Linked DNA regions of Homo sapiens. The protein of the gene in region 3 purifies or fractionates together with the protein of the main gene of each other region. This does not show direct contact. Each region holds a gene or a part of one and is shown on either strand. Other genes may lie near its edges. The genes, in order: ASS1, PSMG2, CA10 and TSC22D1.

Region 1 (7,723 bases), on a different chromosome or scaffold from region 3:
TTTCAAGTAGCACGAGTTTTCCTTAGTGTCAAGTGAGCGCCCAGGCTGGCCTGTTTGCTGGAAGCTGGACAGATGGCTGTGGCTGGGGCCACAGAGAATGCCATCCCAATGAAAGCCAGGTGGCTCTGGTACCTTGACGCGAGGCCACCTTCCCTCCTCCCAGGTGTCTCTTCCGGGGAAGGAGGGCTGGAGGGCAGTGGGCATTTGCCAGGGAGCTGGAGAAACCTGCCGTGGCCCTTTCTGGGGGATGTGGTGGGGGTGGAGCTGGGACTAGGGGAGGCTGAATTCAGCCAGGATCTGCCTGCCAGGCGCAGCTCCCAGGAAGAAAGCCCAATGTCTGGGAGGGTCAGAACCCAGAGGGCTGTCAGGTTGTACAGATGAGGAAATTGAGGCTTAGCAAGCCAGGAACTTGGCTGAGGTCAGCCATAGCAGCGGTGCACAGAGCTTAGTGGGCACATACATGCTTGGTGCCCAGCTCTGGGCTCCTTCCCCCAGCATCTCACCCAATCCTTACAGTCGCCCTGTGGGGAGCAGGCTGTTTGCACCCCTATTTTGCAGCTGAGCAGTTATGCTAGAGAGCTGAAGCCACTCAAACCCATGTCTGGTGGACTTGACCTCTGTCCTGTGCCTGGAGTGAGCGCTCACTGGATTGCAGCTGTGGTTCCTTCTCTCCCTGTCACTTCCTCCCCCGACATCAAACCCTCAGTTTCATTTAGTTTTTGCCTCGGGCTGCAAATGCAGCTTAGGGACCTGCGGAGGCTGAGGGAGGGGGGTGCCCCACCCGCTGCTGGGAGGGCAGGAGCAACGCTGCTGTCTGATTGCATCATTTTCCCAAGCCCATCTGCCCAGCTCATTTCTCTGCATGCATACACTGGCCCCAACACCCACACACGTGTGCATGCACACAGGCACACATGTGCAAGCCCAAACACATCACACACATGCATGCACACACATTGTGTACTCTCAGGTACGCACCCCTGGGTGCACACAGGTGTGTGCGCGCGCACACACACACACACACACACACTGTCTCAGGTACACACGCCAGGTCCATGCATTGCTTCACACTGCCCAGCCCCAGAGGCTGAAGGCCTCAGAGCCCACACCTGCCCAGCTACAACCTGGCAGGCAGGAGGGGCTCACTGGTTTCTTTTGGTTTATTTAAGACAGAGTTTCACTCTGTCACCCAGGCTGGAGTGTGGTGGCACGATCTTGGCTCACTGCAACCTTTACCTCCCAGGTTCAAGCGATTCTCGTGCCTCAGCCTCCCAAGTAGCTGGGACTACAGGTGTGTGCCGCCACACTCAGCTAATTTTTGTATTTTTAGTAGAGACGGGGTTTTGCCACGTTGGCCAGGCTGGTCTGGAACTCCTGACCTCAAGTGATCCACCCACCTCGGCCGTCCAAAGTGCTGGGATTACAGGCATGAACCACTGTGCTCGGCCATGAGAGCATGTGTAGGACTCCACAGCTTCAGGGCACCCCAGCCCTCTTTTTGCGGTGAGGAGCTGACCTCCAGAGAGTGGAACTAGTAGCATTGTTCTAAGTGCCTGCCACAGGCATCTGGGAGATGGTCCCTGTTTCCATGGAGCTCATAGTGGGGGAGAGGGCAGTTAGAATACAGCATGATGGCCGGATGTAGTGGCCCATGCCTGGAATCCCAGCACTTTGAGAGGCTGAGGCAGGCAGATCGCTTAAGTCCAGGAGTTCGAGTCCAGCCTGGGCAATGTAGTGAAACCCCATCTCTACAAAAAATACAAAAATTAGGCAGGTGTGGTGGCATGTGCCTGTAGTCCCAGCTACTTGGGGGTGGTGGCACTGAGCTGGGATGGGAGGATCCCTTGAGCCCAAGAGGTGGAGGCTGTGGTGAGCTGAGATTGCATCACTGCACTCCAGCCTAGGTGACAGAATGAGACCCTGTCTGAAAAAAAAAAAAAAAAAAAAAGGATACAGCTCTGATGGGCAGGAGGCATGGCGGGTCACTGAGGCGATGCAGGTGATCCAGCTGTTTCTGTGGAGCTGCCCCTCCGTGTTTCTGTGGAGCTGCCTCTCTTGGCTCCAGGTGCCTCTGGGAGGAGGCAGGAGCAGGGGTGACTCTCAGAGCTGGGTGAATCTTGGGCCAGCATCATCAGATCACACTTGCCCAGGACTTCCCTTCCTTGAGTCTCCAGTGGTGGTCTTGTACCTATGAGCAGGGGGTTAAGGAGCCGAGCTGATCTGAGTTGGAGTCCTGGCTCTGCTGCCTACCAGTCAAACGAGATGCAGGGCAAGTTCCTCAGCCCAAGCCTCAGTTTTCCTGACTCTAAAATGAAGAGAACCCCAGATGGAAGGGCTTAGCCTAAGACGGACATGTCTATTCCCTTGATTGTGGTGTTGATGTCACGGGCGCATCCGCACGCCGAAACTTGCTAAATTGGACACAAAAAAATATGCGATTATTTTTGTAGTTGATGAATGTGCTGATTGGGTATTCTCGTGTGTGTGTGAGGTGCCACCCTCAAACTTTGTTATGATGTTGGCACATTACCCATCTGATATTTAAAAAATGCAATTTATGATATGTCAAGTAGACCTCAATAGAGCTGTTTTAAAACATACAACAGAATTTCCCGCAACCCAACCACACCACCCGCGCCATCACACGCAAACAGGGGTAGGCTTCCACATATTTCCTGAATGCCTTCTGGAGCAGGGGGCAGGAGGCAGGAGGCAGGACAGGTGGCTCTGGGGCTCCTGGACCTCCTCTGCTCAGTGAGGCTGCTCACAGGAGATTGGGCGGCTGGAAAGTAAGGTTTAGGGCCTCTGGGATGGCCCAGGCTACCTGCAGGCAGCTGAGTAGCTCTGCTTTTGCAGAGTGGTTCACTGCACTGTGAAAACAGATTCCAGACGCCGGGAACTCACGCCTCCAATCCCAGGTACTGCCCACCTTAAGTCCTCCCTGCCTGCCTTCCTCCCTCCTTCCCTCCATCCTGCATGGCCAATTGCCTGGCTGCAGTTGCCATGGATACCACCTGCTGGCTCCAGGGTTAGGGCTGGCTGAGTCACCAGCAACTCAGGGGCAGGGGGTTGAATGCCCAGTAGGGACGTTGTGGGCACCGACCAGAACCATCTTCTCTGCCCCAGCTGCATGGTCCATGAGGTGTTTCCCCTTCTAAGTCCAAAGGGCAGCACAGGCCTGTGAGCCCCGGCTGACTGGCAGGTGGGACCGTGCAGCATGCACGGGACTGAATTCTCATGTGACGGAGCTCCAAAGTCCACCTGGCTACACGGCCAGGCTCTGCAGCAGAGGACGGGAGGCCTGGGAAAGGCACTTCCTCTCCCCGAGCTTCCAGGCACACAGAGAGTGCTCAGGATAGCGATGCCTGCATCACTGCAATGGTGATGGCCGGGTGACCCTTCTGGGCTCCACTTCCCCAGTAGTGTCTAATAAAGACCCTGGGTGACTCTGACCTTGTGACGTTGGTCAGACTCCAGTGGAAACGTTCCCAGGCAGAACAAACATGCCCTGTACATTTGGGAAATGCGGGATGCTGGGGCCAGGTGTCCACGGAGGCTGGAACCAGGAGGCCTGGGCCCACATCTGCCCCTGCTGCTTGTTGATCCGATGACCCTGGGCAGGTGACCTCGTCTCCCTAACCCTGGTTTCCTGTTCAGCAAATTGGACACAGTGAAGACGCCCAAGCCCAGGGCCACAGGAGGCATGTGGGGGAGGGGGGTGCAGGGCGAGCCCAAGGGCAGCCCAGGATTCAGGGAGAGCCCTCGGGGAAGAAGCATGGCTGCAAAGATCAGGAGACAGGAGGCCTTGGCGCCTTCGGGAGGCTTCATTGTGACGGAGGGTGGGGCAGGATGGGAGACCGCAGGCACTTCCCGGCTGCAGAGGGCCTGGCTGCAGAGAGCCCTCGTGCCCATCTGTCCCCCCGGGAAGGGCCGCTGGTTGCAGAGGTCTTAGGCCTCTGCCTGTCTATCGCCTTCCCTCCCTGGGCCTCAGTTTCTCTACCTCCACACTGGGGGAAGTTGGTCTCTGAGCCCCTCCAAACTGGGCATTGGCAGAGTTGAATTCAGAGGCGCTCACATTTGGAGACACGATGTCTAAAATTCCAGCCAGTGAAGGTTCCATGGGGTTGCAGGTAGGAGAGGGACTGGGGCTGGGCCCCTGCCCCACAGCATCCTTCTCCACCTGCAGGTGGGCGGCGGCACTGCGTGCTGGGGAAGCACAGATTCTTGTGCCCTCTGTGACCTTGAGCCTGCCACTGACCTCTCTGAGCCCTGCTGGCTGCCTCCCCAATAGGAATGACAACTCCTACTTCATGAGGTTGTAGTGGGGGCTCAGGGGCACAGGGAGATCCCGCTGAGGCTCCCAGGGCCCTGCCTGGTGCTTGGCAAGGAGCAGTTCTGATGGGGGATGTGTCAGCTGCCAGAGGCTCAGAGCCAAGGCCCCTCCCACATCTCCTGCCTGCGTGCATTCCTCACATCCTGGCCTTGGGCCAAACTGCTCAGCCTCAGCCGCCTTCCCTCGATGCTGGAGGATCAGGTCCAAGAGATGCCTCTCCCCGACCAGCCTAGGACTGCAGTCAGCATTCCCAGGCCCCAGTGTGGTCTGTGGGGCTGTGTGCAGAGTGTGCGAGGTCAGGGTTCCCGGGGGTGGCAGGCACTGAAGGTGAACATCCTGTTCCCGACCTTCAGTGGCAGCTTGCCCAGGAGACAAGGCTGTCCAAGGCCAAGGTCGGGGCTGGGCTGTCTGCAGGGGCTGGCGGGGGGCACTGGCTGTCTCAGGGTCACTCAGGTTGTTCCTCGACTCCCGCCAGACGCTATGTCCAGCAAAGGCTCCGTGGTTCTGGCCTACAGTGGCGGCCTGGACACCTCGTGCATCCTCGTGTGGCTGAAGGAACAAGGCTATGACGTCATTGCCTATCTGGTGAGGGAGCGACCTGGGTGTCTGTCTTCCTGCGTGTCCTGCAACCTGTCCTGTCTGCCCCCTGCCAGCCTCTGTCTGGGTTGTCAGCCTGTCTGCTCACCGTCACTCATTCAAGCCTGGCCTCTTCTCTCGAAGCCTGTCTTGAACTGGAACTAGGAAAATAGCTTCTCGTTGTACTGCCTCACTTTCTCCATCTGCAAATTGGCCATCCTTGAGATGCCTTCCAGAGCCAGGTGATGGAGGCGCGGGGAGGGCACAGAAGTGAACTTGGCAGTGCTGCTGGCTTAGCCTGCTTGCAGAGAGGCATGGGCTGGGACCTGCTGCCAGCCCTGGGAAGGCACACAGTCTTCCCATCTCCAGAGTATGCTGTCAGCCTGCAGTAATTCAGCAAAGATTGTGGAATCCTGAGCTGGAAGGACCCTGGGGGATCACCTGGTTCTGGGATGGGAAATAGGTCACAGGTGATGGGTTATGTGTGAAGCCACTTCCTCATCCAGGGCCCATAGGAGTCATCCCTCTCAAACTAGCTCCTCTTCGACTGAACCTGGCCACAGCTCTGAGTCCTTCTCTGTGTGGCTGTGCTGTTCAGGACTCTTAGGTGCAAATTTTAGAAACTGAACTCAAACCAACTTACGCAAAAAGGAAAGGGAAAAGACAATTCTTGGCTCACACAACTGAGAACTCCAGGGGTAGGATGGCTTCAGGCAGGGCTGGATCCAGGTGCTTCTAAGATCTATCTCCAACTCTACTTGGCTTCATTCTTGGCCTCTCCACAGGGCAGGCAAGGCTCATGGTCACCCTCATAGCCCACCTTTCCCAAAAAGGAGGGCTTACCCCCAGTAGGGCCCATGGGGACCCACCACGCATTAGTCCCTATGGCTGCATCATGGGGTGCGAGGCTTGGGCCATGAGCCTACTCCTTCAGTGGGCGGGATTTCTTCCTCTCCATCCCTGTGGAATGGGGTCCACCCAGGAAAGAAGGTTCTGTTTCCAGAGGAAGTGAGCCTGGGTCTCTGGACAGACAAAACTTAGCTCTTGCCAAAAGTGGCTTGTTTGCCGGCATATTGGCATGTCTAACTGCGCCCAATGCCCTTGTCATTCAGGTTGGGGAAAGTGAGGCCCAGGGGAAGAAATACTTTGCTCACAGTCACCTGGTGGGTGAGAGCACAGCTTTGAGGGGCTGCAAAGAGCCCAGGGTGTATCCATCTCACTGTAGGTAGCACAGCGGGGCAATCAGAGCTGGAGCTGGGCGTATAGACCCCTGGGCTACCACCTGGGGGATTTAAAAGCTGAATGTGATTCAGATAAGCACCTGCAGCTGGGCTTTGGCAAGATTCCAGGGTCTGGTGAGCCGAATGAAGGGAGTGAGGGCTGAGGCCAGGATCTGGGCAGCAGGCCAGAGTCCAGGCAGCAGGAAACATGGCAGTGTCTAGACAGGGGCTGTCAGACCCCGAGGTCAGGGCACTGGCCACAGGGACGGAGCTGGAAGTTCCTGAGCACGGGCTTCTCTGCCTCCCGCCTCTCAGCTGCCTCAGGATGGCCAAGGCATGGCCTTTGACTAGGGAGGAGAGCTGGAGGCTAGGAAGGCCCTGACAAGCTAATCTTTGCACTGGCTGAGAAAGAGTTTTCTGGAAAAGACAGATGAGTTTCAGGAGAACCCTAGACCTTCCAGCAATGACAGCAGATGGTTGTCTCCCAGCAGCCTGTGTGGCCAGGGCCAGGCTCAGCCAATGCTCCAACCCATGGAAGCCACCAGCCATCACCACGCTACAATCCAGCTCCCAATCTCACCTCCTGGAAGAATCTCACCTCTCCAGGCCTTGGGCTTTGTCCTTTTTCCTTCTTACTGTGACTTGGCCATGGAATGGAAGCTGTCTCTGTAGCAGGGGGTGGGAGGCTGCTGCATGCGGATGGTGTGAACTCAGGGCTCCCCCCAGGGGCTGACGGAGCCTCTCCGCTTCTGCTTCTCAGGCCAACATTGGCCAGAAGGAAGACTTCGAGGAAGCCAGGAAGAAGGCACTGAAGCTTGGGGCCAAAAAGGTACCAGGCGGGAGGCAGGGATTTGGGCTGGGAGTGGGGCGGTGATGTGGAGGGCAGTGGTGGATGCTCCTGCCCCAGGGATCCCATCCCTTCCAGTGTGTCTTCTTGCTTCTAAGAGTATGAGATCATCCTGCTCTCAGGTGTGTGAACCCTCTTGTTTTTCTGCCTCCCCCACGCCCTCTTCCACCCACCCACCTTCCCATCCAGGTGGAGTGTCTCTTCCCCACCCACATACCTTCCCTTCTCTTTTATCTCTCTGTCCATCTATGCACCCACTCACCCTCTTTTATCTCTGTTTATCTACTCGTCCACATATCCATCCATCATTCATCCCTCCATTAGCTATCCATCGATCCATCCATCCATCCATTCAGCCATCCATCCATCCATCACCCACCCATCCATTCACCCATCATCCATCCATCCATCCATCCATCACCCACCCATCCATTCACCCATCATCCATCCATCCATCCATTCATCCATTCATCCATCATCCATCCACCCATCCATCCATCACCCATCCACTCATCCACCCATCCATTATCCATCCATCCATTCATCCATCCATCCATCATCCATCTATCCATCTATCCATCCATCCTCCGTCCATTCATCCATCATCCATCCATCCATTCACCCATCATCCATCCATCCATCATCCATCCATTCATCCATCATCCATCCATCCATCCATTCACCCATCATCCATTCATCCAGCCATCATCCGTCTATCCATCCATCATCCATTTATTCATCCATCAT
Region 2 (7,723 bases), on a different chromosome or scaffold from region 3:
AGAAATTATTGAGTTTGCAGGGTAGCAGATAAGAAACTACTTGGTAAAATACTGAAACTTCCTCCCCTTATGGGATAAAAGAACTGGCTGAAATTGGTTGGAACCAATATGGCCAAGTAGAGTCTGCAGAGAACAAGCTTCCTGGTGTCGCAAGCTGACTCTCCATCACGTTTCATACTCATTCCCCTGAATTGGCACATGAGCCCTATGAGTTAGCATGAGGAGATAACTGTGCATGCCCAAGGACCTTCCAGATGTCCCCTTTCCTTCCATCGCTCACCTACTGATCTCAGAATCCACCCTCTGAACCTTTTCTAATAAAAACACTGCCTTGAAGTCAGCACAGGGAGGCAGATTTGAGGTCGACTCCTGTCTCCTTGGGAGTCAATTTGCAATATAAAGCCTTTCTTGTCTCAAAAACCTGGTGTCACAGTGCATCAGGAAGCGAGCCCCTTTTCCTGGATCACAATTTTGAGTGAGAGGAGAAGCCACTGGAGGGTTTCAAAGAGAGTAGTGATGTGGTGTACGTTTAGAGGATCATCAGTGCTGCTGTTTGTGGGAGGCAGATCAGCAAGTTAGTCAGGGGCATGAAGATGACACTGGTTTGCACTCAATGACAGCAGTGGAGGAGGAAAGAAGTCGGATTCAGAATATTTTATGACATATACATAATTTGATATATACATAGTTTATATGTAGATGCCACCAGCTGAAAGGTAATACAAATGGAATAAACCTCTAATATTAATATGCTTACATTTTTTCACCAATGCTACCCGAACTGAAAATATGTTAACACTCAAGATAAAAGCCCTGCTTCCTTTCTATATAATCATGAAAAGACAGTAACACATCTGAAATATTGTAAGATTATTTCTCTGTAGAATCAGATCTTAACTGTACATATGGTAAAAACAGTAGTAATTTTTGAATCTTAATCCCTAATGTTACTTATTTTCTCATTACACTTTAATAAACAAAAAGGCAAACTACAACATACTAACCTTAATAAAAATGGATCTTAACTGTAGAGCCACCAGCTTTCTTGAAGGCAATGAATACACTATAAAAACAAGAAGAAAATGAAATCATATGACAGTGAAGTTATACAAGTTGAAATTATTATGATAAACAAAAATTGAATTATAATACCTTTTGCATTTAAATGTTTTCAATAATTAAAATACGGAACATATATGACATCTGGTTAAAATAAGACCTTTTAGAAGTACCTTAAAATAAGCCAGTGGGCTTTATTCTATGGAACAGATTCATTTCTGAAAAGTTAACTGTAAGAAAATATAAAAAATTATTTTTCTTTTGACTTTAACTGCAAAACCAGAGAAGTATTCCCCTGAAAATTTCTGGTATTATGACAAATAAAATCATCCTTAAGAAAACTGAACTTTTTGGCTTTTGATATTCTCCCCTCTTTGTCTCCAGAGAACAGCAACACTCATTGGGATTAACAGAAAAAACAGTAAAAGGTAGGAGAATGTTAGCCATGTAATAAAATCCTGAAATAGGTACATGTGTGTTCCTTAGAACTTTTTAAAGGATCTGAAATAACATAAAATGTCATGTGAGTCAATGTGTTTGTATTTTTTACTGGGAAAAGGATCCATAGCTTTCATCAGGTTCTACAAGGGGCACACTCTAGAAATGCTTAAGGCTTCCCTGCCCAACTTCATTTCTAAGAATGAGAAGCAGCTGGGCATGGTGGCTCACGCCTGTAATCCCAGCACCTTGGGAGGCTGAGGCAGGTGGATCACAAGGTCAGGAGATCAAGATCATCCTAGCTAACATGGTGAATGAAACCCCGTCTCTACTAAAAAATAAAAAAATTAGCCAGGCTTGGCGGCGGGCACCTGTAGTCCTAGCTACTCAGGAGGCTGAGGCAGGAGAACGGCGTGAACCCGGGGGGCGGAGCTTGCAGTGAGCAGAGATCGCGCCACTGCACTCCAGCTTGGGCAACAGAACAAGACTCCATCTCAAAAAAAAAAAAAAAAAAAAAGAATGAGAAGCTCCTGAGTCAGGGATAAAATACTCTCTAAGGACACAGGATTACTACTGTGCTAAGGGGTAAGTGTTGGTTACCATAAACAGATTGCAAATAACAGCAAATCCTTTGGTGGATCAGGTCTCTACTGTTACAGGTCTTTCGGAAATTGTCTCCTATGGCTGGCGTGATGTGGTGTGACTGGGGGGTATGCTGAACTCAGCAAATCTAGCAAGCACCAGGTATGTTCAGTCCAAAGGAAGTTTAGGAATTAGGGAAAAGGGTATAAATTTAGGGAAAAGAGACTAAGGCAAAGATTACTCAGCCTCTAACCTATCTGTGACAAACACATGTAGTCCAATTCAACTGACCTAGGTTTGAAAAGAATGTATCTGTAGGGGGTGGACAGGCTAAGCTTTTTAAAATGTAAGCTACCACTTCTTCGGTGATAGCAATACTCTCCTCATCAGCGTATCATACAATTCTTTTTTTTTGAGACAGAGTCTCGCTCTGTCACCCAGGCTGAAGTGCAGTGGTGCGATATCGGCTCACTCCAACTTCTGCCTCCCAGGTTCAAGTGATTCTTGTGTGTCAGCCTCTCAAGTAGCTGGGATTACAGGAGCACACCACCACGCCTGGCTAATTTTTGTTTTTTGTTTGTTTTTTAAGACAGAGTCTTGCTCTATCACCCAGACTGGAGTACAATGGTGTGATCTCGGGTCACTGCAACCTCTACCTCCTGGGTTCAAGCGATTCTCCTGTCTCAGCCTCCTGAGTAGCTGGGATTTCAGATGCACACCGTCACAACGGGTTAATTTTTTGTATTTTAGTAGAGACAGAGTTTCATCATGTTACCCAGGCTGGTCTCGAACTCCTGAGCTCAGGCAATCCACCCGTCTTGGCCTCCCAAAGCGCTAGGATTACTAGCATGGGCCACCGTGCCCGGCCTATGCAATTCTTTTTGTTGTTAGGTTCCTGTTTCCTAGTACTTTTTTCTTCTGATGTGATACATTACGAAAGCAACAACACCTTTTCTGTATTCTGCCCCAAAACATTAACCTTTTATCTAATCAAGCCTTTAGAGCTAACTCCAGTTACAGAAAACACAGGGGCTAGAACAACAAGCCAAGTGACAAGAGGACGTAATCAGACAAATCAGAAGGTGGGACATTGTACAAAACAATACACCTAGTCTTTTCTTCAATAAATCGGTTTGTGATGAAAAAAAAGGGACTGCTCTAGAGTAAAAGAGATTTCAAGGGCACAGCACAACAATCGGATATATGAGGGGTCTTCAAAAAGTTCACAGGAAATGTGTACTTACGAAAACATTTTGCACCAAAATAAACTTGTACTGACTTGCTGTAACACGCCTGAAAAGGATCTGGTTTGAGGCACTAAGAAGGATAAGGCATTAAGTGCCCCTATCACAGCAACATGAATTCTGCTTAAACTGAAGCAAGAACATCAAATTTATGGTGAAGCTTGGGTAGATAAATGGTGAAATCACAGATGCTTTAAAAGGGGCGGGCGTGGTGGCTCACACCTGTAATCCCAGCACTTTGGGAAGCTGAGGCGGGCAGATCATGAGGTCAGCAGATGGAGACCATCCTGGCTAACACAGTGAAACCCCGTCTTACTAAAAATACAAAAAAAGTAGCCGGGCGTGATGGCGGGTGTCTGTAGTCCCAGCTACTTGGGAGGCTGAGGCGGAAGAATGGCGTGAACCCGGGAGGCAGAGCTTGCAGTGAGCCGAGATCGTGCCACCGCACTCCAGACTGGGCGACAGAGCAAGACTCCATCTCAAAAAAAAAAAAAAAAGTTTATGAGGGCTGGGCGTGGTGGCTCATACCTGTAATTCCGGCACTTTGGGAGGCTGAGGCGGGTGAACTGCCTGAGGTCAGGAGTTCAAGACCCACCTGGCCAACATGGTGAAACCCTGTCTCTACTAAAAATACAAAAATTAGGCCAGGCGTGGTGGCTCACGCCTGTAATCCCAGCACTCTGGAAGGCCAAGGTGGTTGGATCACCTGAGGTCAGGAGTTCAACACCAGCCTGACTTGCATGGTGAAACCTCATCTCTACTAAAAATACAAAATATTAGCTGGGCGTGGGGGCGTGGACCTGTAATCCCAACTACTCCAGAGGCTGAGGCAAGAGAATTGCTTGAACCCGGGAGGTGGAGGTTGCAGTGAACCAAAATCGTGGCATTGCACTACAGCCTGGGCAACAAGAGCAAAACTCTCTGTCAAAAAAAAAAAAAAATACAAGAATTAGCTGGGTGTGTGGTGAGTGCCTACAATCCCAGCTTCTTGGGAGGCTGAGGCAGGAGCATCTCTTGAACCCAGGAGGCAGAGGTTGCAGTGAGCCGAGATCCCGCCACCACACTCCAGCCTGTGTGACGGAGTGAGACTCCATCTCAAATCGGGCGCGGTGGCTCACGCCTGTAATCCCAGCACTTTGGAGGCTGAGGCAGGCAGATCACGAGGTCAGGAGATTGAGACCATCCTGGCTAACATGGTGCAACCCCGTCTCTACTAAAAATACAAAAAATCAGCCGGGCGTGGTGGCATGTGCCTGTAATCCTAGCTACTCAGGAGGCTGAGGCAGGAGAATCGCTTGAACCCGGGAGGCAGAGGTTGCAATGGGCCGAGATCGTGCCACTGCACTCCAGCCTGGGCAACAGGGCGAGACTGTCTCAAAAAACACCCAAAATAAATAAATAAAATAAAATAAAATAAAGTTTACGGGGGCCGGGCGCAGTTGCTCCTCACACCTGTAATCCCAGCACTTTGGGAGGACGAGGCAGGCGGATCATCTGAGATCAGGAGTTTGAGACCAGCCTGGCCAACATGGCGAAACCCCATCTTTACTAAAAACACAAAAACAAAAAGTAGTCGGGTGTGGTGGTGGGCACCTGTAATCCCAGCTACTCGGGAGGCTGAGGCAGGAGAATCGCTTGAACCCGGGAGGCAGAGGTGGCAGTGAGCCGAGATTGTGCCATTGCACTCCAGCCTGGGCAACAAGAACAAAACTCTGTCTCAAAAAAAAAAAAAAAAAAAAAAGAACGTTGTAAAGATTAAATGAATTACATGTAAACGCCGCTGGGCGCAGCGGCTTGTGCCTGTAATCCCAGCACTTTAGGAGGCCAAGACAGGCAGATCACCTGATTTTGGGAGTTCAAGACCAGCCTGACCAACATGGAGAAACTCCGTCTCTACTAAAAATACAAAACTAGCTGGGTGTGGTGGCACATGCCTGTAATCCCAGCTACTCGGGAGGCTGAGGCAGGAGAACTGCCTGAAACTGGAAGGCGGAGGCTGCGGTGAGCTGAGATCGCGCCACTGCACTCCAGCCCGGGCAACAAGAGCAAAACTCCATCTCATTAAAAAAAAAAAAGTACATGGCATTTAGCTCATAGTAATACTCAATAAAAGATAGCTGTTATCACTAGTGGAAAGTATACAAATTCTAGGGGCTTTTGTTTTTTAAGACAGGGTCTCACTTTGTCACCCGGGCTGGAGTGCAGTGGCATCATCATGGTTCACTGTAGCCACAACCTCCCAGGCTCAAACAGTCCTCCCAAGTTAGTTAGCCTCCTAAGAGGTTGGGACTACAGGTTGGCTAATTTTTTTCTTTTTCTTTTTGTAAAGATGGGGTCTCATTTTGTTGCCCAGGCTGGTCTCAAACTCCTGAGCTCAAGCGTTCCTCCTACCTCAGCCTCTCAAAGTGTTGGGATTACAGATGTGCACCAACGCACCCGGTCATGAATTCTGGTTTTAACCATTTATAGTCCTTTATCCTCTGAGGCAGTAACTCAAATTTAGTCTTGCGTTGACAAAGCCATCTGTCCTGTAGGAAGTTCAATAATAAGGTCATTTCTCAAATGTACATTTCACTATCGCAAGCTAAAAACAATGATATGGTTAGTAAGACACAAAAACCAAAATGCTTCTTCATTTGTCTTTCAATTCACCAAAGGCCTTTCATGCTCTTCTGTCACCTCTGGATTTGACCTTAAAATGGTAAACAGAAGACTGAAAGATCACCAGAACAGTTAGCCATCAAAGGTAGTAACTGGGTGCTCCCATGCTTCATGATCAACAGGAGCTCTTCTCTTACTCACCTGGTGCTGTGCTGCATTATAACCAGTGTTCCCTGATTAATCAAGCCTGATAGTCCAATGAGGAATTACAAAGATTTACAGTATGGGAAAAGCCTACACCTATTAGTGGCATCAGGCAAGTCAATCTCTTTGAGCCTTATCTATACCATATTATTATGGATCCTATAATGGAAGAAGATGACTACGAGGATAAGACTTAGTTGACGTAACATATATTAAACCTACAAGACTGAGTCCAGCGCAATCTACTTTTCGCCTTTCCATATTATTAGTGATGGTTACACATACCAGTAAGAACAGGAGATAAAACTGAGGATAGAAGGAAAAAAATCCATGTTGAAAAACAAGGAAATTTAAAAATTCTAGAAAAGATACAAGTATGGGCTGGGCACGGTGGCTCACACCTGTAATCCCAGCACTTTGGAAGGCTGAGGCGGTTGGATCACGAAGTCAGAATATTGAGACCATCCTGGCTAACACAGTGAAACCCCCGTCTCTACTAAAAAAATACAAAAAATTAGCCAGGTGCGGTGGCAGGCACCTGTAGTCCCAGCTACTCGGGAGGCTGAGGTAGGAGAATGGCGTGAACCCGGGAGGCGGAGCTTGCAGTGAGCGGAGATCGCGTCACTGCACTCCAGCCTGGGCAAGAGAGCGAGACTCCGTCTCAAAAATAATAAAAAAAAAAAAGATACAAGTATGATCTTATTCTCAACCTTCGTAAGACTTGCCATTTACAAGAGGCTAACAACAACTAAAACCAGGACATAAAAGAATAGGACAATGTGATTGGGTTGTGAACTCTACACAAAGTTGGCACTAAGTAAACATTTGCTACAAAACAATTATCAATAAAGTCTATTTCTAATTTAAAACAACTCTACTTTGTAGTGGAAAAATACAAGGTAAAGTCTTACATACCTTCAGCATTTATGCTAAGTTCTGTTGAATTTCCTTCTGTGGTCGCATATGGATTGTTTCCAACCATTGGCACAAGACAATCGGTATAGAAGTAACCAATCTTAGACATATTCAGTGTAGAAATAATCAGATCCATTGCAAGCTGGCCAACATTTCCAACAGATACTGCTGGCTGAAATTATAAAAGATATGTTCAGTAAGTCACCAAAATTAGCAGCACTTTATTTTATTTTTTGAAACAGAGTCTGCCTCTGTCTCCCAGGCTGGAGTACAGTGGCGTGATCTTGGCTCACTGCAGCCTCTGCCTCCTGGCTTGAAGCAATTCTCCTGCCTCAGCCTCCTGAGTAGCTGAGATTATAGGCGCGCACCACCACACCCAGCTAATTTTTGTATTTTTAGTAGAGACGGAGTTTCACCATGTTGGCCAGGCTGGTCTCAAACTCCTGACCTCAGGTGATCCACCGACCTCAGGTGATCCACCCGCCTCAGCCTCCCAAAGTGCTGGGATTACAGGCGTGAGCCAACACGCCTGGCCCACAGCACTTCAAAAAGTTTAGACAGAATACAATAGTTATATTAGTACTGAAAGCATCATAACATCATAGCTAGATATTGATTTTCATTAACTACAACTGCTGGGGCCTCCTCCACCTTTGAGACTATTTAACAAATACTTATTG
Region 3 (7,723 bases):
GGGAACTGTGGTGGATGGGGGAAGGGAGATGGGGCTGGCATTCAGAGTAGAGGGAGCAGCTTCACCATGGCATATAAGTAGCACTTCCATATGTATTGTCCATGTACCTGTCCTTATACATCCCAATCCTCATTTCCTCTCAATCTCCAATTGTGTCAATGGAGCATCTCTACCAGGAGGTCGTGGCAGAGCAGCAAAGTGCTAATTACATTGCCTGAGCACTCCTCACAAGCCATTCATTGCCTAATGGGGCCCTGGCTCTCAAGGATGTTCTCCTCAGCACTTTTCATACCCTAGCACACTTCAGGACAATTTGATGTTAGTTGCTTATTCCTACAAATTTGTGTTGCTTTAGTGAAACCAGCCTCTCAAGGATGCAAATAATTGATTCCTGGAAGAGGACAAGGCCTGCATTTTCTGTTGTTTTGTTTCAGTTGTTGGTTCTGAGATAATTGTTTTCTCTTTTCTGATTCAGAGCCACTGAGAGAGAGAGAGAAAGCAAGAGAGAAAGCCCCATATTTTACATATGACTTTAATTCTCCCCTTTTAATGAAACACATCCTATCTATATCACCATAGCAACAGCTATGGACTTTTCCCTCTCTCAGATGTGTTTTGAGCAGGATCAGAGATTCCAGAGGCTGAGAGCTAGCAAGGTCAAGGTGTTTCTATCTTGCTGTCAGAGGGAGCAGCAAGTGGGTCAGGTTGCACAGCTGCTCACCCATTCTTTGCTTAATGCTATCTAGTGAGAGCTATTTCATAATCCCCTTCTGGAATAAGCTTCAAATATAATCCACATTATGTGGTATTATCAATATACATCCCTCAATAGACTTTACACATCTGTGGGCAGAAGCTGCACTCTGGCCCATGCCTAGCTCGGAGCCCACCACATGGCAGAAGCACAAGAGCATGTGAAGAGTGGATGAAATTAACAGGAGGAACTGGCTATAGATCTTGCATGAAGTGGCTGGTACAATTCTCCGTGTACCCTTCTGCCCCCTTGAAAAGAAGAACTTAAGGAAGGATTTTTAAATGAACTTGTCTAATGTATCCCAAATCAGGAAGATTCTTCTTGTCCAGCCCCCACTACTGCAATGGAATCTAAGGCATGTTTCTTTTCAAATATTATTTTTTCCCTGGCTAATGTATTTTCTTCTTTTCATAAATATCCTACTTTATACTGGACATTAATCTAACCATTTAGACATGATTAGCAAGCTAAGGGTCTTACTTATTAAAAACAGTTCATTTTTCCTTCTTAAAGAAATGGAGACATTTGAATCCCTGAATGTGCTCATTTATCACCAATCCCCAACAAGGAATCCAGGAGTTCTCTGTGTAGGACATGAGTAATTTTTATAAAAATGCAGTTGCTGACTATGTCATACATCCATGCAGCTTTATAAAACAAAGCAAATGATTACCATCAATTACAATAACCTCACTAGACAAGACTGCAATTAATCTATAGCTCTTCAGATAACGACTGTTGCACTGTGCCAAGGAAAATGCCTGGCATTAATTGACTTATCACGATCAGCAGTGATAGATAGGGCAGATGGCAATGTGATCATTCACTGTCAACAAAATAAACACATGCTTTCTTGCTAGAAGTGTCTACTTGGGTCCTCTCAAAGGATAGCCAAAAATAGAGGCCAAAGGTGGCTTTGAAGGTAGCACAAAATAAAAATTAAGTTAACCAGATTCGCGCAATCTACCCACATAACAAACCTGCATGTGTACACTTTAATCTATAATAAAAGTTGAAATTCATTTTTTAAAAAGTTAACCTTCAGGGTGAGATATGTTGACTTTTACTGAGGCTAATCCTCAGTAGAATACAATTGAAGGAAATTTCTATAAGAAAATCATGGATTGGTGCAGTGGCTCACGCCTGTAATCTCAGCACTTCGGGAGGCCGAGGTGGGCAGATCACTTGAGGTCAGGAATTCAAGACCAGCCTGGCCAACATAGTGAAACCTCACCTGTACTGAAAAAAATTAGCCAGGTGTGGTGGTGCACACCTGTAATCCCAGCTACTAGAGAGGCTGAGGTAGGAGAATCGCTTGAACCCAGGAGGTGGAGGTTGCAGTGAACCGAGATCATGGCACTGCACTTCAGCCTGGGTGACACAGCGAGACTCCATCTCAAAAAAAAAAAAAAAATTATGGATTGTATAGAATTTCAGCATCAGAAGATACATTAAAACTGACAGTTTCCCCTGCTCATTCGAATGTGAGTCACCTTTATGGAGTCACCAAATTCTGTTCAGTGCTTAATAACTCCAGTAATGGGGCTGAGTGCAGTGGATCACACCTATAATCCTAGCACTTTGTGGGGGGGCCAAGACAAAAGAATTGATTGAGCCCAGGAGTTAGAGGTTACAGTGAACTGTGATGGTGCTACCACTGTACTTCAGCCTGGGTAACAGAGTAAGACCCTTTCTCTCTAAATAAATAAATAAATAAATAAAATAATTCCAGTAATATGAAGTCACAATTTTCAGAGGCAAACTCATTTCATCACTGTATCGTTTTCATCGTTAGAACACATATGCAGCTGAATTCCATCTTTTTGTAGCTACCACCCATTGGCCATAGGTGTCTTCCCTTATGCTACACAGAAGATGCCAAACTCTTCTTGCTTGCTGAAATCCGTAAATGGGATCTCAAAAGTCAACTGCTTATCGCACTACTTTGCATATAGCATTGTTTCGGGGACTCTGAAATTCTGGTCTCTTGCACCTAAACCCATACCAGTTCGTCTATAGACCCCTGACATTGAGAGGCTTGGAAAGAAATGTGATACGATGACTGCATCTACCCAGGGCAAGGTAGATTATACCTATGCTGAGGCCAGTGCTCAAGCCTACATTGGAGCAGTGGATGTGTGTGTGTGACCACCCTACTTGGGAAGCTGTTCTCCAAGTCTCATTAGTCTAGATAGCATCCCAGCCTTGCCATTTCCAGGGGACAATTACCAATGTGTGTGCCTTCCCCCCTTTTTAGCAGTGTGATTTTGTTGATTAAGTCCCCTTTGTTTAGAAAACTGGGATAATTCAGGCGGAGTTTCACCTAAAATTGTCACAGTGGTCGCTAACCAAAATCTCTTGGGGAAAGTTTTACAAATGTACAAACCTGGATCCTATATCCTGAGACTGATTCAGTTGGTTTTGGGAAGGACTGAGAGGAAAATATTTTGACAAGGCTTCCCAGTTCATTGTGATTTGCAACCCTGCTTACATGCTTTCTTCACTCATTGCTTTCTTCACTGGGAACACATAATAATGTACCATTGTGGAAGTGCTTCACAAACCTAATCGTCAGACTCTCCTGGGAACTTTTAAAATGCAAATTCTTTGGTGCACCTGATACCTGTGGTCTGGTGTAGGTCTAGGAAAATTCATACACTAAGAGATCAAATTACTATATGTTTCCCTTAAGGATTTTGGAAGCACTCATTTACTCTAAAATTGTGGTTCACGTATAAGTTACAAAGCACCCTTATCATATACTGAAGAAACAAGTGTCACTAAAGAATAATACAATGTAAAGATTTTAGCCTAGTAAACATCTACATTTTATCAATTATTCATTTAACAAATATTTCTACTCTGAAGCAGTGTTGTGATAGGTGCTGGAATATGACAGAATATGGGGGAGAAAAAGAAATAACAGCAAACAAAAAAATGAGCAAGTAAGTCAACAGATAAAATAATTACAAACCTTAAAATAACTTAAGAGGAAGAATTCATCTAATTTTGAATATTCTCTAATTCAGACCGGCAGTACCCAGTTATGCTCAAATTGTGACTTTCTGTCCTGCTTTCATTACATTTCTTGTTGTACTCTAGTTCAGAATCTGCAACTTGGGAGCCTGGCATTACAATGCCTTTGGCAGACATCCCTAATCAATCCTAGTATTTTTTTTCCCTACAGATCCAGGAGGGAGACCCATACTACAGCTCAACCCTATTGTTTATAGAGTCATGATTAACAGATCACAGATAAAATGCTAGATGAAATCATGCAGCTTCTCTAGCACACACTGCCCTGACATGCCTCGGGGCTTTTGCTCGCACTAGCCCTCATTTCCTGCTTTGTCATTGTTGTTTATCAATCATTGAGTACTTTCAGTGTTTTTACATCTGGAATCCCACTTAATTTTTAAAATGGAGGTGTCTAAACTGTGCCTTAGAAGGCTCAAGTAACATCCCAAGATCACACAGTGTGTATCAAAGCAAGACTACAAAACTCAGGTCACTGGACTCCAAAGCTGATGGTCTTAAAATTGTTCATCATTGCCTCTCTTTACAGCCCAGTTCAAGGGGCACCTTCTCTGTGAAGCTTCTCCTGACCCCTTCAAGCAAAATTTACCACTTCTTCCTTTGAGTTTGCCAGGGCCTTTGTACATCCCCATTACAGCATGACATTATACTTTAATGACTTGAATGTAGCACTCTTTGAGCTCCTCTGTGGTAGGAGCCCTTTTTTTAAATCTCTGTATCCCTGGTAACTAGCTGAGTGCCTAGGCAGGCTCTTAGTGACACATTTTGGATGCACATTAAAATCTGGCTGCTGGACTCATTAAGATTGTGGGTCTGTTTCTTAGTGCTTGGCCTTAACACACTAAAAATAAGGCCAGATTTATACATGATCTTTAAAAAAATAAAAACACCACATGCAATACATATTTTTGTAATTTCAAAGCCTTCCTAACATCAGTTATTGAGGACTCTTAAGCAGAAACCTAGTCACAGGGCATTTAGCCTGTAAGGACCCCTGATCTCTAGTTCATAAACACCCTCCAGTATAACGGGGGTAAAACAGATCAAATTACCTACACCCTACTTGTGAAGTGTCACACCACAGATGACAACTGTTTAAACTGTAGCTCTTGTCCTATAAATGAAACTGTGGTTGGGCTCTCTGCTGTGGCCTGAGTTCTGTCTGGGTTGATGGTGGCACACAGTGACGTTTCCATTTTGCAGAAACTCAGGAAAACTATTGAGTTGCCTGACACTTATTTCACAGTATGTTATAGTTTTATGCAAATATGACTCATTATATTCAAAAGAAAAGTTATGGAATCTGTGCTATCATATGTGACACGTGAGAGGCTGATCGCCCAGATAGGTGTAAGTAAAGATGTATTATATATATAAGGTGAGGATTTGGGGTTGAAATAATGCTCTAGAAATATCACTGGACATGAGTCTCAAGAGAGCTGCAACATTGTCTCAGAAGGAAAGAGCTAGTTTCATTGTAGCCTTCCCTGGAAAATACTAGAAGCTTGTTATTGACTTCGATGTCAATTTGCAAAAGACAGATGGAGAAAGAAGGCATGGGCCTTCTCATTTCATAGATTAGAGCGAATCCCTTTGTTATGTTATCCCATCTTGGACACAAACAGGCACCCAATCTTATAAGTTGACATTTAACCTTAGTACTTTGACAGACTAACATACCTCCCCAGAGAAGGCCTGTCCATTGAGGAGGTGCTCCGACCCTTGGCTGTCCTCACTCCCAAAGTGTAGTCGGATCTCCTCCAGCCGGTGGCTGTATGTCATGGGCCCTCCAGATATGTTGACCAAGTGCTCCTTGTCCAGGCGAAGGGATACGTGTCTTCCAGTGTTGTACATGGTCCCACTGACCTGCAAGGCAATTAGCAACAGGTCAAGCAAGGCCCTCCTTCTTCTATGCCTCCCCAAACCCAGCATGGTGCTTGGATCAACACCTTTTGCTTCCTCTTGATGGGAAGATGGGCTAAATCCACATGTGGAGTAGGGCGTGGCAGCTGCCCCAGAGGGTATATGTGGGATCTATGGTAATTTCTGTGAGGCATAAACCACATGATGGCTTAGGAATTTGAGGTAAGAACTTGAAGGAGACTTTTCATCATTTGTGATTAATATTTTGTGCATTGTATTTTATAAAAAATGAATTTGTCCTTCTTACTATAAGGATTTGGAATGGAAAGATACTGCAAGAGTTCTAAATCTCAGCTGTGAGAAATTGGAGAAAGCAGTTAGCAAGGGGTGAGATATTAAGAAGGCCAAATGAGACAGGGAAGAGAAAATGAGTGACTAGAAGCAGACGCTCATGGGAGATGGAAAGCCTAGGTCTGAATTCTCAAGCGTCCTATCTGGTGTGTCCTGCCCTGCAACCAGACATTGCACAGAATCCTCATAGCTTGTGGGCCTCAAGTGGTAAACTAAAGGGATTCACTCAAACTTCCAATTTCATAGATTCCTAGACTTACTCCTTATTCCTGATTCCATCTTGCTCCAGCCCCTTCAAACTGCTAACATGACTGCTTGGCATTCCTTTTCCTTCTTTTCTTGCTGGGACTTGATGTTCAGCTTCATTTTCCTGACTGTGACCTCAACAACAATTGATTCTAGAACACTCATTCCCATCTGAAACTCTACTTTCTTACTCTCTTGGGTTGACTTAGCTCTGGGAGTAGGATCTAGAGCTTAGGGAGACTTTGAATGAGTCTGGAAGGAGTGTTTCTGGGTTACAGGAGGCTGAACTATTTGGATTTTCTTCCTGCTTACTCTGACTTTGGGCCAAGCCTTCAGCCCTAGTGATTCCTGAAGGGCTTCCTGTACCTTCTGACACCTTCATTAGATGTGGTTTTCATATATGTGCTCTATAGCACTATCTTTTACCTGCCTCTTTTCCACCTTTCTGACACTGGTGTTGTGAATGATTAGCTCTTGAGTTGTTCACTGTGGCAGAGACCATAATGCTCACCAAATATTCCAGTGACTCATTTTGTTTCCTGCCACCTTACTGTAGAATGGAGCCCATGTGACTGATAGGGGCCATGGGTTGGGAGGGGTCATGACAAGTGTCACTTCCAGGTTGAAATAGTGGATTCCCCAGACTCACCTTTCCCTGGTACATCGACCAATGGCATTATATGGAAATGGCAATGTGGTGCAGCGACTGCATGGAGCTCATGTCAGCCTAGGCCCCTAGAGATTATGTGCAGTTTACAAAAATGACAGGAATTCTTCCCCTCCCTATAACTACACTCCCAACAATGTAATTTTGTAACTGCTGTCATCTAGATAAGAGGCTATTTCTCTACGTCGAGTCTGGGCTGGCCTTGTCACTTACTTTGGCCAACAGCATGTGCTGCACACAACATGCTAGTCCTGAGAGTAGACCTTGAGGGCATGCGTGTTTTCTTCACTTCTTCGTGGAGCCGTGAAACTACCATGCAAATGAGCCTGGGCTAGCCTGCTGGAGGATGGGGCCACAGTGAGGAGAGCCATCCCAGGAGAGGCCGTCTAGACGGGCTACTCTGTGGCTGATCCACTAGCTGACTGGCCCAGCTGAGATCAGCTTAGCCTGGCCCAGGTCAGAAATGTCCACTGACCCATAGGCTTGGAGCTAAATGATTATTTAAGTCTCTAAATTTTGGGGTGGTTTGTTATGCAGCAAAAGGGAACTGATAGACACTAAGTCAGTCATCTTCTTTCTCCTGTGAAATCTGGAACTATCAACAGAAACTCTCCGTTGAGTTCCTGAACTGCAAGGTCGCCTGAGTGCCAACCATACTGTTAAGCAGAGAAAGTCAGATCAGAGAGAGAGGACTGAGGCAGATGTCCCAACATTGACAGAGGAGACCACACACTGGGGAACGGGGGAGGGAATGGGGAGAATAACTACTTCGCTTCAGATATCTTTGTGTCTCTTCGTTCTAGTTC
Region 4 (7,723 bases), on a different chromosome or scaffold from region 3:
TAGGTTTTCAGACACTCTTAAAAATTCCTTATGGGCACTGGCCTTACCTCTTATTAGCTTTATAAGAAGTAAAAACGGCACTAGATTTCGAATTGGAAAAACAGCCTTGAATCCTAGCTCTGCTTTACTGCTATGTATGTAACCTTAGACAACTTGCCCTCTCTAAATACTCAGCAAGTTTCAGTTTATTCACCAATAAAATAGAAAAAAACTTAATTCACAAGATTACTGAGTGGTTAAATATGGTAGACATTAACTGAATCTAATACTAACATTTTTCATCACTTCTATGAACTGAAATTCTGAATTACATACTATTCTTATTTCTAACAAATATAAACTAAGTAATTCCACTCTTAAAATTTATGTATTCATTAGAGAACTAACTTGGAGCTATGACTTAATTAAAATTAGCATCATTCATTACATTTAATAGTACAGTATTCTACCATTGAAATAGATGTGTAATGATACTAAACACACACATCTATTTTTTCACTCCTTCCCTAAAACCCCACTAAAATGACAGAAAAGCAATTTGTTAAGATACAAAGACATAAGCCCACAAAAACTGAGGCAGATGAAAAGACAATAGCAAAAAAATTTGAAAGCTGGAAAGCAGACAGTTGAGTGACAAATGACTTAGCAAACACTAGAAAATCAAAGCTTTAGCAAACAATGGAGAATGCCAAAAACAAACCCAATTTAAACTGCAAAATCCCCAAAAGACTCAGGAATTGGCAGTACCACATCTATATAAGTGGGATGTGGGGGGAGAAGGTGCTAAAATTAAAAAGATTGTTTAGAAGTCAGTTTAAGAAGCAACCAGTCCTACAGATTCCCAACTGTCCCTCCCTAATCCCAAGAAAAAAAAAGGAATATTGTCTGAAGAAGGTAAAACATAGGATCACAGGACTAAGGAAATCAGGCACAGCAAAATGCAGAACATACTGAAAACAGGGTTGAGTGAAGAAACGTATCTGGGGATCCCCCAAAACCTTTCATTCCACATCCCCCTCACTGCCCACCCCACAGAATGCTTGTAGAAAGGCCTTCAATTCCAAGCAAGAAATCAGAAGAGCCTTCTTATAGGGATCTAACCAGCTAGGAGGATATACAAGAAGAAACCGACACTAGAAGTCCTCCAACCAAACACCACAGCCAGGTTACCATACAGGAAAGCTAACAATTGACAAGCCACGCTCAGAATTTCTAATTAGCATTTTAATTCCTTACTCTTACACATGACTACCAACTATCTGAGGAAAGGCTATAAGATGAAAGATAAAGACCAAAGCAAATAAAAAGTAAGAAAATAAAACCTAGAGGAAACACCACATAGAAAGAAAAAAAAAACTTTTTAAAAAAGCTAACATTTTATATATTCAGATAGCTAAGAAAAAATACTATCATTATTAAAATAGAATAGTATACTATTAAAAAGGAGCAAAAAAAAAGTTCTTGGAATTTAAATATGTGATAAGGGAAATGGAAACTCAATAGAGCAAAAAGAAAAACAGATGAAAAGTAGTTGAGAAAACACAAGAAAATTAGAAGACCAGTCAAGAAGGTCCGTTATCCAAATAAGAGGAGTTTAAGAGAGAAAAAATAGAAAGACATAATCAACAACCTGACTCAAGAAAAAGTCCCAGAATGAAAAGATGTTTCCAAACTGAAAGGGTTCACCAAGTACTCAGCACAGTGAATGAAAACAGACCCACACAAAAATCCATCATGGCAAAACTTCAGAACACTGGAAACATAAAATCTTATAAAGGTTTTAGAGGTTTTAAAAATGAGAGGAAGAAAAGGAAGAAGGAAAAGGAAGGGAAGGAAAAACAAAATACACAGGTCACATACAATATATAAGATATCAGAATGGCTTCAGATTTCTCAAAAGCAATATGGATGTTAGAAGGCAATGGCACAAAATATAAGAGAACATAACTTCCCCACCTGGTATTCTTTACCTAAGAAAGTGTCAGAGTAAACTAAAGCCATTTTAAAACAAGCAAACTAAGAATAAAGACACTAGTCTCTGGAAAATAAAGATCCAACACAAGACAAAGTGAAAGGAATCCCAGAATAATAGTTGTGTACCAAGCCAAGAAGGCAACCAGTCAAGAATGGAGGTCAGTGGGATATAACACTTCCTGAGAAAGATAAAATTGTTAACAATATCTGATATTGGAACATCCTAAGAGGCATCTGATGAAAAGTGGATTTAGTGATAAATATAGAGAAAACTAGGCAAAGAGGTAAAAAAAGACAATGAACTCCAGCCAGATTACTCTGCGGTAAAGTTAACAGTCAACAAGCCACACGGAAAAAGAATTTTTAAAAATAATTATATATATATAGTAGAGACAGGATCTTGCTATATTGCCCAAATTAATCTCAAACTCCTGGCCTCAAGCAATCCTCTCACCTTGGCCTCCCAAAGTGCTGGAATTATAGGCGTGAGCCACCATGGCCAGCCCCACACTGCAAATCTCTAATCAGCTCTTTAATCCTTTAACACTTATTTGCAAGCAGACAATCAAGACTTACCAGACATCTAAGGAAAGGTTCTACAGGAAAGGTAGAGCCCAAAACATACAAAAATGGGAAGAGGGTGGGGAAAGGAGGGGCAACTTGGAGAAAACAGACAGCGCTGACAGATGAAAACCTGGGAGTGGAGGAAAACCCATTTCTATAATAGACAGGTGGGGATGGAGCAGGGAAGCAGCCACAAAACACTGTACAGGATAGGAAAAGTAATATTTGACAAGAATACTGAATAATCAATATTGATAACTACTGGGAGGAAGGGTACTGGGAAAAAAGGAGACCAGGTAGGTATATGGTAACAACAAAATTAAATCTTCATTTTCTATCCAGGAAGTTAATACAGACAAAAAGAAATGAAAGGTGTATTTTATTTAACAAATACCTACATAGGGCATGTGAGTTAGACAAAGTTCTAGGGAATTTCCAAATTCATTTAATTCTTATATCAACCCAATGAGGTAACTACTATTGTCATCATTTTTTTAATGAGAAGATTGAACCATAAAGAGGATAAATAGCCCGATGTTACATAAAACTAGTAAATGACAAGAAAGATCAAATCTAGGCAATCTAACTCCACAGTCCATGCTCCTAACGAGCAGGCTATATTACATATCTAGTGGTAAGACAAGCAAGTTATTTAGAGACTGGGAGGTAAATACCACAATAATCATCTAAAAGAGGTGAAAGTGATTGTTTCTAGGAAAGGAAAACTGGAAAGTAAGGGTGCAGGAAGCTCTTCCATTTATTTCTTGGAAAACCATTTAAACTATCTTTAAACTGTGCATGTACATCTTGAAAAAAAAACTTTAAAAATTATAATTTCGTATTTTAGTTAACAAAGTATTTTAACTGATACTACTGCTATCCTGAGAAGCAGGCAAAATGAGTATTACTCCTATTTTATAGGTAACACACATGCGTCTTAAATATTTGAGGACCTACTATAAAACAGGCAATGTACTTTGCAGACATACATCAATTCACCTAAAAATGTTGATGAGAGATACAAAAAAGCAAGTCTTTTTATTCAGTTCTTTTCCATTTGTTGCATAAATTATATGATCCTGCATCTCTCACAATTGTGCTTAAGATGAGGGACAATATAAACTTTAAATCATGACAAAAAAAAAATCAGGAGAAATGCCTGCTAATTAATTCAAAAAAATAATTCATCCCTGCCCTTGAGGAACATCTAGTCTTGTGGGAAAGATTGGTAAACATAATTATAATTGAATGTGTACAGTGCTTAAATAGAGGAATATTAAAAAGTGCTAAGGAAACAATGTCCCCTGAGTGAAAAGAATGCTTTAAAGAGAACATCTGAGCTGAGTCTTGAAGGATGAATAGAAGTTTGACCCATTTCACGTTAAGAGGCTGTGCTAATAACAATCACAAAACATAAAAGATGCAATACCTGTATTTTCCCATTCTTGTAAAGGTGAATTCACAGTTCATGTTACAGTCTAAGACATTAAGACTTTTTTTTTTTTTTTTTTTAGAGACAGGGTCCTGGTCTGCCACCCAGGCTGGAGTGCAGTGGCATGATCCCAGCTCACTGCAGCCTTGACCTCCAGGGCTCAGGGGATCCTACCACCTCAGCCTTCCAGGTAGCTGGAACTACAGGCATGCGCCACCATGCCTGGCTAATTTTTGTATTTTTTTGTAGAGACAGGGTTTTGCCATGTTGCCCAGGCTGGTCTCAAATTTCTGGGCTCAAGCAATCTGCCCACCTCAGCCTCCCAAAGTGCTGGGATTACAGGTGTGAGCCACCGCACACGGCCTGACATTAAGACCTTTTAAATAAGAATGATTTTTTTTAAAACAAGATACATAATCTTAGCATCCTGATCCATGTTTATAGTCTCTCCCAGTGATCAACTGAAGGCACTTTCCACATGTCTAAACATTTTATAATCTAAAGTGTTAAGAGTATTATTTCAAAAGATGATTAAAAGATAACCATCCTCATCTGTCCTACTGCCCAAATTATATTGTTAACACATTTCCTGATTCATAATATTGAAATTATATATGTATTCCCTCTCTCCTGAGACTAATGGTGACCAAGCCCAGAAGATGCAAGTGACAACAGAAGCTACCATGGGAAGAAAGGTTTTAAAAGTTTGTTTTTTAATCATATCACTGTTTTCTCTTGTAGTTATTCTTAAATTATCTTCCAAGGGCAAATTTAAATGAAAATTAACTTTTTTCCAAACTGTAGTGATAAATAATCTTCAGTAAAACACAATAAAGAATATAATATATATCTTTTCTGATCTTACAAGGTGTTTTAGGGCTACATTCCGATTTCACAGAATTTAAGATACCGCTAAAACAAAAATTTTCTGGTTTTTAATCACGAAACTTTGATGTTAACTAACCAAGGCCCAAATAGGTAGTAAATTCAAAACAGTCCCTGCTCTTGAGGAACTCCTGGTCTTGTGGGAGAGACTGCTAAACATAATTATAATTGAATGTGTACAGTGTCTGAAGACAACTTGTATTAGAGCTATATTTCCTTATTTCTCAGTATGTCTTTTTGTCCCTTTCTAGAATTCCATAATTTCCACCTTATTATTCCTTTTCTCAATTATTATCTGGAAAAATTAATTTTATATTAATATCTTAAACTGGGACCCTATTCCTATAGTTAAAACTCTAGTTGAAAGTAGCATCATCTGACTTTAATTGCCTGGAAGGGCAAGCTGTGGAAAATCCTATCATGTCCTACCAATAGGAGGAAAAAGAGGTGAAAGTCAAGCCAGGAGACCACAAATGGCAATTACAAAATCATGGCAAGTTTGAATTCAAAATGAGTGTTTTTGTTTGTGTATTTTACCCGTCTTTTGTTTCTCTAAACTTAGCATCCACATAATATAGCTGTTTTTATAGAGGCTTCACTCAAATCATAACCTTTTGACTTAAAAAACATTAATATTTGTGGTAATTCTTTTAAAATTAGTTGAGTATTAGCATGATAAAATTAAAGGTTTAACAATAATAATGGAACAATTAAGGAAACTACCTCCTAAAAGTTTATCTTTTAGAGTACAGTTTTGTACAAATAATACAGAATACATTTGGTTAGGTAACAAGGTTTTAATTACCTGACTATTAGAAAAATAATAAAAATCTTGAAAGATAAGATTTTATCAATTTAACCATGTCTTTATCTTACCTTTTAAACAACTAAATAACACAAACCTCACTGAAACATTTGACCTGTTTTCTTTTTCTAAAATTACAACTATTTTGCAATATGCTCAATTTTTCCAAAGCAAAACCCACAAACATACATATAGAATATAAATGCTTAAATTCGCTTGATGAAAGTTCAATCACAAAACCCTCCAACTAATACTAAAATAATTAAATATCTTGCACGCTTACTCCAAATTCCACCGTGAAAATGATGTCTTTTCATAACTCCTATAATAGCATTTTAATCAAGGTTAGTAACAGACTGGAAAATTTGTGAAAAGAACATTACTTTAAAAATCAACATGAAAGATTTCACAACTTTTTTAGCCAGTCAGCTTCAAAGACACAATTTGATTCAATAAGCGTTACTGGCATATTATTTCCAATCTACGTGAAAAAACGCTTGGTTTAATAATGTACTTTAGGCTTTCTGTATCTTTTTGGTAAGGAAAGAAAGGAACAGGTGGAGTAGATTAGCCAGAGACCAAGGTCTTATTTTCACGCCTCTATAAATTCAATCCTCCAAGACTTACTTTCTCTGTTCTTTAAAATGGCTACCACCTTGATCTACCATGCAAAAGAAAAAATGTTCAGCATACTATCAAGATAAGTCTGGTTATTTTGATAGTTTATGTCCTCCTTTCCCACAAAATAAGATTCCCATTCCTTTACTGTTCAGATAAAATGACCATTAAATAAGTACGCAAAAGTTGGTCAGTTGGAGTATGAGGGCAACCTATATAACCCAGATTAAGTCATCTTTCCTACCATATCTGACTAGGAAAAGTAGGCAACAATATCTTTCACAGACTAAGATCAAACACAGTAGAAATGAAAAAGGGATGTCTAGTAAAGGAGAACAAACGTGGGAACCACAACCCCCCAAGAGATTATTTTAGCAGCTCAAAATAGATTAACTATTATGTGGGTTAGCAAAAATTAAGCTTTCCATAATATTTCTAAAAAGCATTTTAGAGATAATAAAACCACTTGGCGCCCCCAAACCTGTTTTTAATGTGAACACATGCTCAACAACTATTCTGAAAATATTGTTTACATATTACTATTATTTCCTACTCCCTCTGAAACCATTCCATAACTCTTGCTCTATAAAACTTCCCATAAAAATGCATTTTTCACATACAAAACACAATATACAATGTTTTAGAGTCATTTTGTGCATACATATAGCTACTAAATAGATTAACTTCAAATCTGTTGAATGTCTCCAGAAATATGACATGATCTTACCTCTCATCCTCGCCATCCACCAGGGGTGTCGTCAGCGGTAGCACCTTCAACGGGAAAAGAGAAGCAGAGGCTGCTAGGCTGCTGCTACTCCCATCTGAAACTGCTGACATTCCCCCACTGTCACCACTGATAGTCTGAGGTAAGCCAACTAAGGAGGGCTCCGCTGCACGCCTGGCATCTTCAATTTGGCTTCCAATTGCCTGAGCTAATGATTGTGCGGAGAACTGGGTAGAACTTAGTGGTATCTGTTGTGCCAAAGGCAAATTTGTATTAGTTGCTATCAAGGGAGGTTGACTAACACTTTGAACCAAATTACCATTTTGGGTAGCAGGGGTTTGTGCTATATTTTGTGGTGGAACCAAGTTTGTTGGGGCAGAAGGCATTCCAGAAGGACCAGTTGAACTAACCTGACTTGTAACAGAAATACTACTAGCAGAGGGCAAAGAACTAACTGCAGGCAACTGCTGTGAAACAATTCCTTGAGCTACTGGTTCTACTCCTTGTGGCTGGGGAGGCACAGTTAACAAGGAACTTTGGGATGCAATAACCAATTGTTGAGGAAGGCTTGGAGCACTAGTTTGAACTCCCTGATGAATAATCCCAGTTTGAGCAGGTGGAACCACTTGCGAAGATGGAGGAGCACCCTGCTGAATAACTGAAGGTGGAACCTGGGTAGAGGGCTGCTGCACTGCAGTAGGTATGTTTGCTTGCTGACCAA

The links.
Region 1: the proteins of CA10 (region 3) and ASS1 purify together in Homo sapiens (affinity purification with mass spectrometry; 4 studies listed by BioGRID and IntAct, with this or other methods). This does not show direct contact.
Region 2: the proteins of CA10 (region 3) and PSMG2 purify together in Homo sapiens (affinity purification with mass spectrometry; 4 studies listed by BioGRID and IntAct, with this or other methods). This does not show direct contact.
Region 4: the proteins of CA10 (region 3) and TSC22D1 purify together in Homo sapiens (affinity purification with mass spectrometry; 4 studies listed by BioGRID and IntAct, with this or other methods). This does not show direct contact.

The regions. Positions count from the first base shown.
Region 1 is NC_000009.12:130,447,416-130,455,138, forward strand, and holds part of ASS1 (argininosuccinate synthase), read left to right. Parts: intron 1-2,440; exon of another isoform or gene 2,441-2,540; intron 2,541-2,856; exon of another isoform or gene 2,857-2,918; intron 2,919-4,808; 5' UTR 4,809-4,813; coding exon 4,814-4,918; intron 4,919-6,889; coding exon 6,890-6,958; intron 6,959-7,723. UniProt on the Homo sapiens protein: One of the enzymes of the urea cycle, the metabolic pathway transforming neurotoxic amonia produced by protein catabolism into inocuous urea in the liver of ureotelic animals.
Region 2 is NC_000018.10:12,706,042-12,713,764, reverse strand, and holds part of PSMG2 (proteasome assembly chaperone 2), read right to left. Parts: intron 7,216-7,723; coding exon 7,044-7,215; intron 1,064-7,043; coding exon 1,005-1,063; intron 1-1,004. UniProt on the Homo sapiens protein: Chaperone protein which promotes assembly of the 20S proteasome as part of a heterodimer with PSMG1.
Region 3 is NC_000017.11:51,742,163-51,749,885, forward strand, and holds part of CA10 (carbonic anhydrase-related protein 10 precursor), read right to left. Parts: intron 5,657-7,723; coding exon 5,471-5,656; intron 1-5,470. UniProt on the Homo sapiens protein: Does not have a catalytic activity.
Region 4 is NC_000013.11:44,566,158-44,573,880, forward strand, and holds part of TSC22D1 (TSC22 domain family protein 1), read right to left. Parts: coding exon 7,006-7,723; intron 1-7,005. UniProt on the Homo sapiens protein: Transcriptional repressor. Acts on the C-type natriuretic peptide (CNP) promoter. Acts to promote CASP3-mediated apoptosis.